2 linked regions of the Homo sapiens genome follow. The protein of the gene in region 1 purifies or fractionates together with the protein of each later gene. This does not show direct contact. Each region holds a gene or a part of one and is shown in the gene's direction. Other genes may lie near its edges.

Evidence for each region.
Region 2: the proteins of NCF2 (region 1) and CAMSAP3 purify together in Homo sapiens (affinity purification with mass spectrometry; 2 studies listed by BioGRID and IntAct, with this or other methods). This does not show direct contact.

What each region holds. Positions count from the first base shown.
Region 1 is NC_000001.11:183,557,141-183,559,492, reverse strand, and holds part of NCF2 (neutrophil cytosol factor 2), read left to right. Parts: intron 1-2,352. UniProt on the Homo sapiens protein: Subunit of the phagocyte NADPH oxidase complex that mediates the transfer of electrons from cytosolic NADPH to O2 to produce the superoxide anion (O2(-)).
Region 2 is NC_000019.10:7,605,820-7,609,472, forward strand, and holds part of CAMSAP3 (calmodulin-regulated spectrin-associated protein 3), read left to right. Parts: intron 1-451; coding exon 452-574; intron 575-656; coding exon 657-752; intron 753-957; coding exon of another isoform or gene 958-990; intron 991-2,001; coding exon of another isoform or gene 2,002-2,049; intron 2,050-2,306; coding exon 2,307-2,445; intron 2,446-3,653. UniProt on the Homo sapiens protein: Key microtubule-organizing protein that specifically binds the minus-end of non-centrosomal microtubules and regulates their dynamics and organization.

The sequences.
Region 1 (2,352 bases):
ATCACTTTGCCTTTGCATCAAGCTGTATGACCTTCTGCAAACCATAGTTCTTTGAATTAATGTACTTTTCAAAGAGAAAAGTAGGTAAATTTTGCCTTAAAAACCAGCTATTCAGAACTATCCTGTGTCTCTGGTGACTTTCTTGATTCTGTTTGTAATGAACAGACTAAAAATTGAAACAGCATGCCTGTAATCCTAGCCACTAGGGAGGCTGAGGTAGGAGGATCACTTGAGGCCAGGAGTTCAAGGCTGTTGCCTGGGCAACACAGCAAGACCCACCTCTTAAAAGTGGAGAGTTCTAAGAATCCCTGGAAGAGTTTGTTAAATCAATTCCTGGGCCCACCCTCCAGAGATTCTGATTCAGGTCTGGGGTGGGGCCCACCAACTTGCATTTCTACCAAGTTTCCAGGTGATGCTGGTCTACTGCCTACACTCTTAAGAAGCACCATTCCAACTCGTGGTTTGCCAGCCTAATTCTCTACCTCGACACAAAAAAGTCCCATCATAAAAGCCCTGCTCATACGCTGAGTCTGTGCACTACCAATGCAAAGCAGTGAAAAACTACCATCAATTATAACAGAAAATCCAACAGACAAAGAGAGGGGGAAATTTTAAAGTTAATGAGGGTAGGCTGGGCCTGGTGGCTCACACCTGTAATCCCAGCACTTTGGGAGGCTGAGGTGGTGGATCACTTGAGGCCAGGAGTTGAAGACCAACCTGGCCAACATGGTGAAACCCCATCTCTACTAAAAATGTAAAAATTAGCTGGGCGTGGTGATGCACATCTGTAGTCCCAGCTGCTAGGGAGGCTGAGGCAAGAGAATCGCTTGAACCCGGGAGTGGAGGTTGCAGTGAGCCGAGATTGCACCACTGCCCTCCAGCCTGGGTGACAGAGCGAGACTCTGTCTTAAAAAAAATAAAAATAGGCCGGGTGCAGTGGATTATGCCTGTAATCCCAGCACCTTGGGAGGTCAATGTGGGCTGACTGCTTGAGGTCAGGAGTTCAAGACCAGCCTGGCCAACATGGTGAAACTCTGTCTCTGCTACAAATACAAAAATTAGCCGGGTATAGTGGTAGGTGCTTGTAATCCCAGCTATTCAGGAGGCTGAGGCAGGACAATCTCTTGAACCCAGGAGGAGGAGGTTGCAGTGAGCTGAGATTGTGCCACTGCACTCCAGCCTGGGTTACAGAGTGAGACTCAGTCTCAAAAAAAAAACAAAAACAAAAACAAAAAAATTAAAATTAAAAAAAAAGTTAATGGGGGTAGAGAGAGTATACAACAAGTGTGTAGCAATTAATTAAAAATATGAGTAGTATAGGCTGGGCGTGGTGGCTCATGCTGGTAACCCCAGCACTTTGGGAGGCCAAGGTGAGTGGATCACTTGGGGTCAGGATTTGAGACCAGCCTGGCCAACATGGTGAAACCCCATCTCTACTAAAAATAAAAAAATTAGCCAGGCGTGGTGGCGTGCACTTGTAGTTCCAGCTCCTTGGGAGGCTGAGGCAGGAGAATCACTTGAACTAGGGACATGGAGCTTGCAGTGAGTCAAGATTGCACCTTTGCACCCCAGTCTGGGCAACAGAGTGAGATTCTGTCTCAAAAAAAAAAATATGAGTAGTAGTAATATAGAAGCAGAGTGTTCCAACAAGAGAGAATGGTAACTCAGTGGGAAGAACTGGGTTGAACACCTCCAAGTGCCACTTTAAAGGTGCCTAAATCAACCAACCAGCTCAATTGTCTGGAGTTTGGGAGAGGGAGCAGGAATACAATGAAAGAACACACTAAAACAACCTTTTGGGTAGATATGGAGAGAAGCCAGTATGCGTCTTACTATGACCTATCTGTACAAGTCTAAGTTGAGGAAATACCCATATTGTAGCACTTCAACAGAAAACAGAATTTAGCGGTCAGGGTAGGACAGAGGGGAGTTCAATTGCATTCAAGTTATGAGATGGTCTCATCTACAAAGTGTTTCTCAAACTTTAATGTGCATGTGAATCACCTGCGAATCTTCCTAAATGGATTCTGACTCTGGTTTGGATCTGGGATTTTTCATTTCTAATATGCTTCCAGTCCACGACCTACCCTGTAAGAAGAATCAAGACAGTGATTTGCAGTTAGAATTACCTAAGGGAACTTTTGAAAAAACTGCTGCCCAGTCACACCACACATTAAAGCAAAATTTCTGGGGGCAGGATCCAGGCACCAGTGCCTTAATGTCTGATCTAGATGTACAAAGACAAACTTCTGAACTGGCTGTGTGGTCAGGTAGGTGGGCTTTGGAGATCATACCTAAGTTGTCTGATTTTTACTGGCAGAATGGCTCTGAACAAACTATTCATCTCTCTGG
Region 2 (3,653 bases), on another chromosome or scaffold:
CTCTGTCCCTTAAGCTCTGTCCATCAAACCTAGCTCCTCCCACCAGTCCAGGCTCCTCCCCTCAAGCTCTGTTCATTAAGCCTAGCTCTTCCCCCCAGCCCTGGCTCCTCCCCTCAAGCTCTTCCCATCAAGCCTGGCCCCTCCCATCAAACCCAGCTCCCCAAAAAGGCGCTACTCTGGCCCTTGAGGATTTGTGTACACAGCCCACCCTATCCTAACGCCTAGCATCTGACCTCAAAGTCCCACCCATCGTGCGTGGCTTTTCCGGGACCCCATTTCTTGTTCCTTCCCTTAAGGCCCCACCCATGAACCACTGGCCCCGCCCCCTCAAGCCCCACCCCCCCCGTCAAGTCCCTCCCATCTGCAGGTTCTTCCTTTTCCCAGGCCCTTGGGGGCCGAGGTGCGCCTCCTGCAGCTCTCAGGTCTCACCCTCTAGCGCTTGCCCCCACAGGGAGCCCACCTAGCTGTCATTGATGCCCTCATGGCTGCCTTTGCCTTCGAGTGGACAAAGACCCTGCCAGGTCCCTTGGCCCTGACCAGCTTGGAGCACAAGCTGCTTTTCTGGGTGGACACGGTAGGTGGGGTTGGGCCTGGGGTGGGTTCGGGGACCAGCATCGTCCAGTGGCCAGACCACTGACCCCCTCCCTGCCCTCCAGACCGTCCGGCGGCTGCAGGAGAAGACCGAGCAGGAAGCGGCCCAGCGAGCCTCTCCAGCAGCCCCTGCAGACGGGGCGGCCCCGGCGCAGCCCTCGGTGAGGCCAGGGCATAGAACCGTCAGAAGGATGGGGGACCGGAGATCTGGGAGGGCAGGGCTGTGCTTCCTGGACACTCCTGAAGTGGGGAGGGGGCTAGAGGTGACACACTCTCTCTTTCTTCCCCCCTCTCTCAATCTCTCTGTGCCCTGCCCGTCCCCTGTGCCGGTACCCGCTGCCCTCCTCTCTGCCTCTCTGGCCTCAGTGCCCTACGCGCTGGTACTGGAAGCTGGTTCCTGTAAGTGGGGCTGTCTGTCCGCCCCGTCTGCCTGCCCTGCTTGTAGCTCTGTCTGTCTGTATGTCTGTTTCTGCCTGCCTGTCTGCGCGCCCTCTCATACCTCCCCAAGCTGTGAGCAAAGGAGGTTGGACCCCAGTCCTGGGAGACAGGGAGAACCCCTCTGTGAACCAAGAGAAGGGTAGAATCTCGGCCATTAACTGAGAGGGCAGACCCCTCCCCCAGCGAACTGATGGGTGGGGACGAACTTCCCCTCCCGTTATTCAGAAGGGCAAGCCCTCCCCGTTCCCATTAATGAAGAGGGTGGGACCCCCTGAACCTGTCCCCCTTAGCCGAGGTGGGGAGACCACATAAATTTCTGAAGGGGGGACCTGCAGCCCATCACAAACGTGGATCCTGACCCTAGCAGGCAGGGCACCCTCTGGCCAAGGGGAAGACCCTCCAATGCAGAAGAAGATAGAATAACTTTCCTAACTGAGACCCCCAGCTTCCCTAGAGAAAAATCCCAGCTTTGAAAAGGAGGAGGAGGCCCATCCCTGAAGCTGGAAGTTGAAATTTCTCTCTTCCCTGAATGAGCTGTGTGACCTTGCAGAAGTATCTAAACCTCTCTGTGCTTCATATAAATTACTCCCATAGTAGATAAACAAGGAGGAAGTGGGGGAGGTTTTGGGCTGGCTGGCGTCCCCACCTTTGCTCACTCCTTCCCCCACCCTGGGGCCTGGGTTGGGAGGTTCCCTTCCTGCCTACCCGCTTCCTCTGCATCCTCTCCCCAAGCTGGGGGCCTGGGTCTTTTGTGGGAGGAGGATTCCCCGCATAAGAGGGGGTTCCTACTCTGTGGGGTCCCTTGGGGCTGGGAGGAGCTGGGGTTCGCGAAGCCGGCCAGAGCAGTCAGGGAGCTGGACGGCCGGGGCTCAGGACCAGGGTCAGGGCTACCCCCTCCCCCCCAAGGTGGGCTTGGGGGCCCAGCAGGTCAGCACCCCTCCCCCTTGCTGATGGCTGCTCCTCTCCCCCCAGCACGCAATTGCCTTCTGTTTGAAGGAGTCGGGGAGCAAACCCCCCATGGTAATGTATCCCCCGCCCCGGGGTCCCAGGAGTCCCTGTCCCCAGCCCCCGCTGCTGGCCTGGCTGCTCGAAGACATCTCCTCTGCCTCTTGCTGCTGCCCCTCCCCTGCTCCAGGCTGGCCCCCCAACTCTGTCTCTGGGACCCCCAGCTTCCCGCCCCCTCATGGCGGAAACCCCAGGCCTCCCTGCCCAGCCTGCATGACCGCTGACCCTGGGGGCCAGCCTGGCCACTCACCTGACCTGGCTCCCATCTGCAGATCCGATACCGCAAGGACCGTGTGGTGGCGCGACGTGCCCCCTGCTTCCCGACGGTGACCAGCCTCCAGGACCTGGCCAGTGGGGCCGCGCTGGCCGCCACCATCCACTGCTATTGTCCCCAGCTGCTTCGACTTGAGGGTGAGTAAATGGATGTGGAACAGATCTTGTGCCGGGGAGCTGGGCATCCTAAGTCCCAGCCCCTAGACCCTCCATCCCCAGGTCCGCGAGACCAGCAACGATGCAGTGGTCATGAGGGCAGCTTCCGGAACTGGCAGGCCTGAGTTTGTGTCTCTCTCTTCCCCAATGAGCTTTGTGACCTCACACAAGTATATAAACCTCTCTGTGCTTCCAGGAGTTCATTCCTGCAGCAGATGAAACGTATGGAGTGTGGACTGTGTGCCAGACCTTGTTTTAGGCACTGGGGATCCAGCCAGAATAGAGACACACTCCCCACTTCACAGACGGCTCTAGCTGGGAGAGAAAGATACTAAGTTTATCCAAAAGTACTTTTTTTTTTTTTTTTTTGAGACGGGAGTCTTGCTCTGTTGCCCAGGCTGGAGTGTAATGGCATGATCTCGGCTCACTGCAACCTCCACCTCCCAGGTTCAAGCCATTCTCCTGCCTCAGCCTCCTGAGTAGCTGGGACTACAGCCACACGCCACCACGCCTGGCTAATTTTTGTATTTTTAGTAGAGACGGGTTTCACCGTGTTGGCCAGGCTGGTGTCGAATTCCTGACCTCAAGTGATCTGCCTACCTTGGCCTCCCTAAGTGCTGGGATTGCAAGTGTGAACCACTGCACCCGGCCCAGAAGTACTTTTTGCATACTGGGTAGTCCTAAAGGCAATGGGTGGTCAGAAAAAGCTTTTTTTAAAAAAACTCTTTTTTCTTTTTTATTAAAAAAAAAATTATAGGGCTGGGTGTGGTGGCTCACGCCTGTAATCCCAGCAGTTTGGGAGGCCGAGGCGGGTGGATCACGAGGTCACGAGTTCAAGACCAGCCTGGCCAGGATGGTGAAACCGTCTCTACTAAAAATACAGAAATTAGCCGGGTGCGGTGGCGGGCGCCTGTAATCCCAGCTACACAGGAGGCTGAGGCAGGAGAATCGCTTGAACCCAGGAAGTGGAGGTTGCAGTGAGTCAAGACCATGCCATTGCACTCTAGCCTGGGCAACAGAGCGAGACTCCATCTCAAAAAAAAAAAAAAAAAAGTATAAAATAGAGATGGGGTCTTGCTATGTTGCCCAAGCTGGTCTTGAATCCCTGGGCTCAAACATCCTCCCACCTCAGCCTCCCCAAGTGCTAAGATTACAGGTGTGAGCCACCACACCTGGCCCGGAAAAGCTTT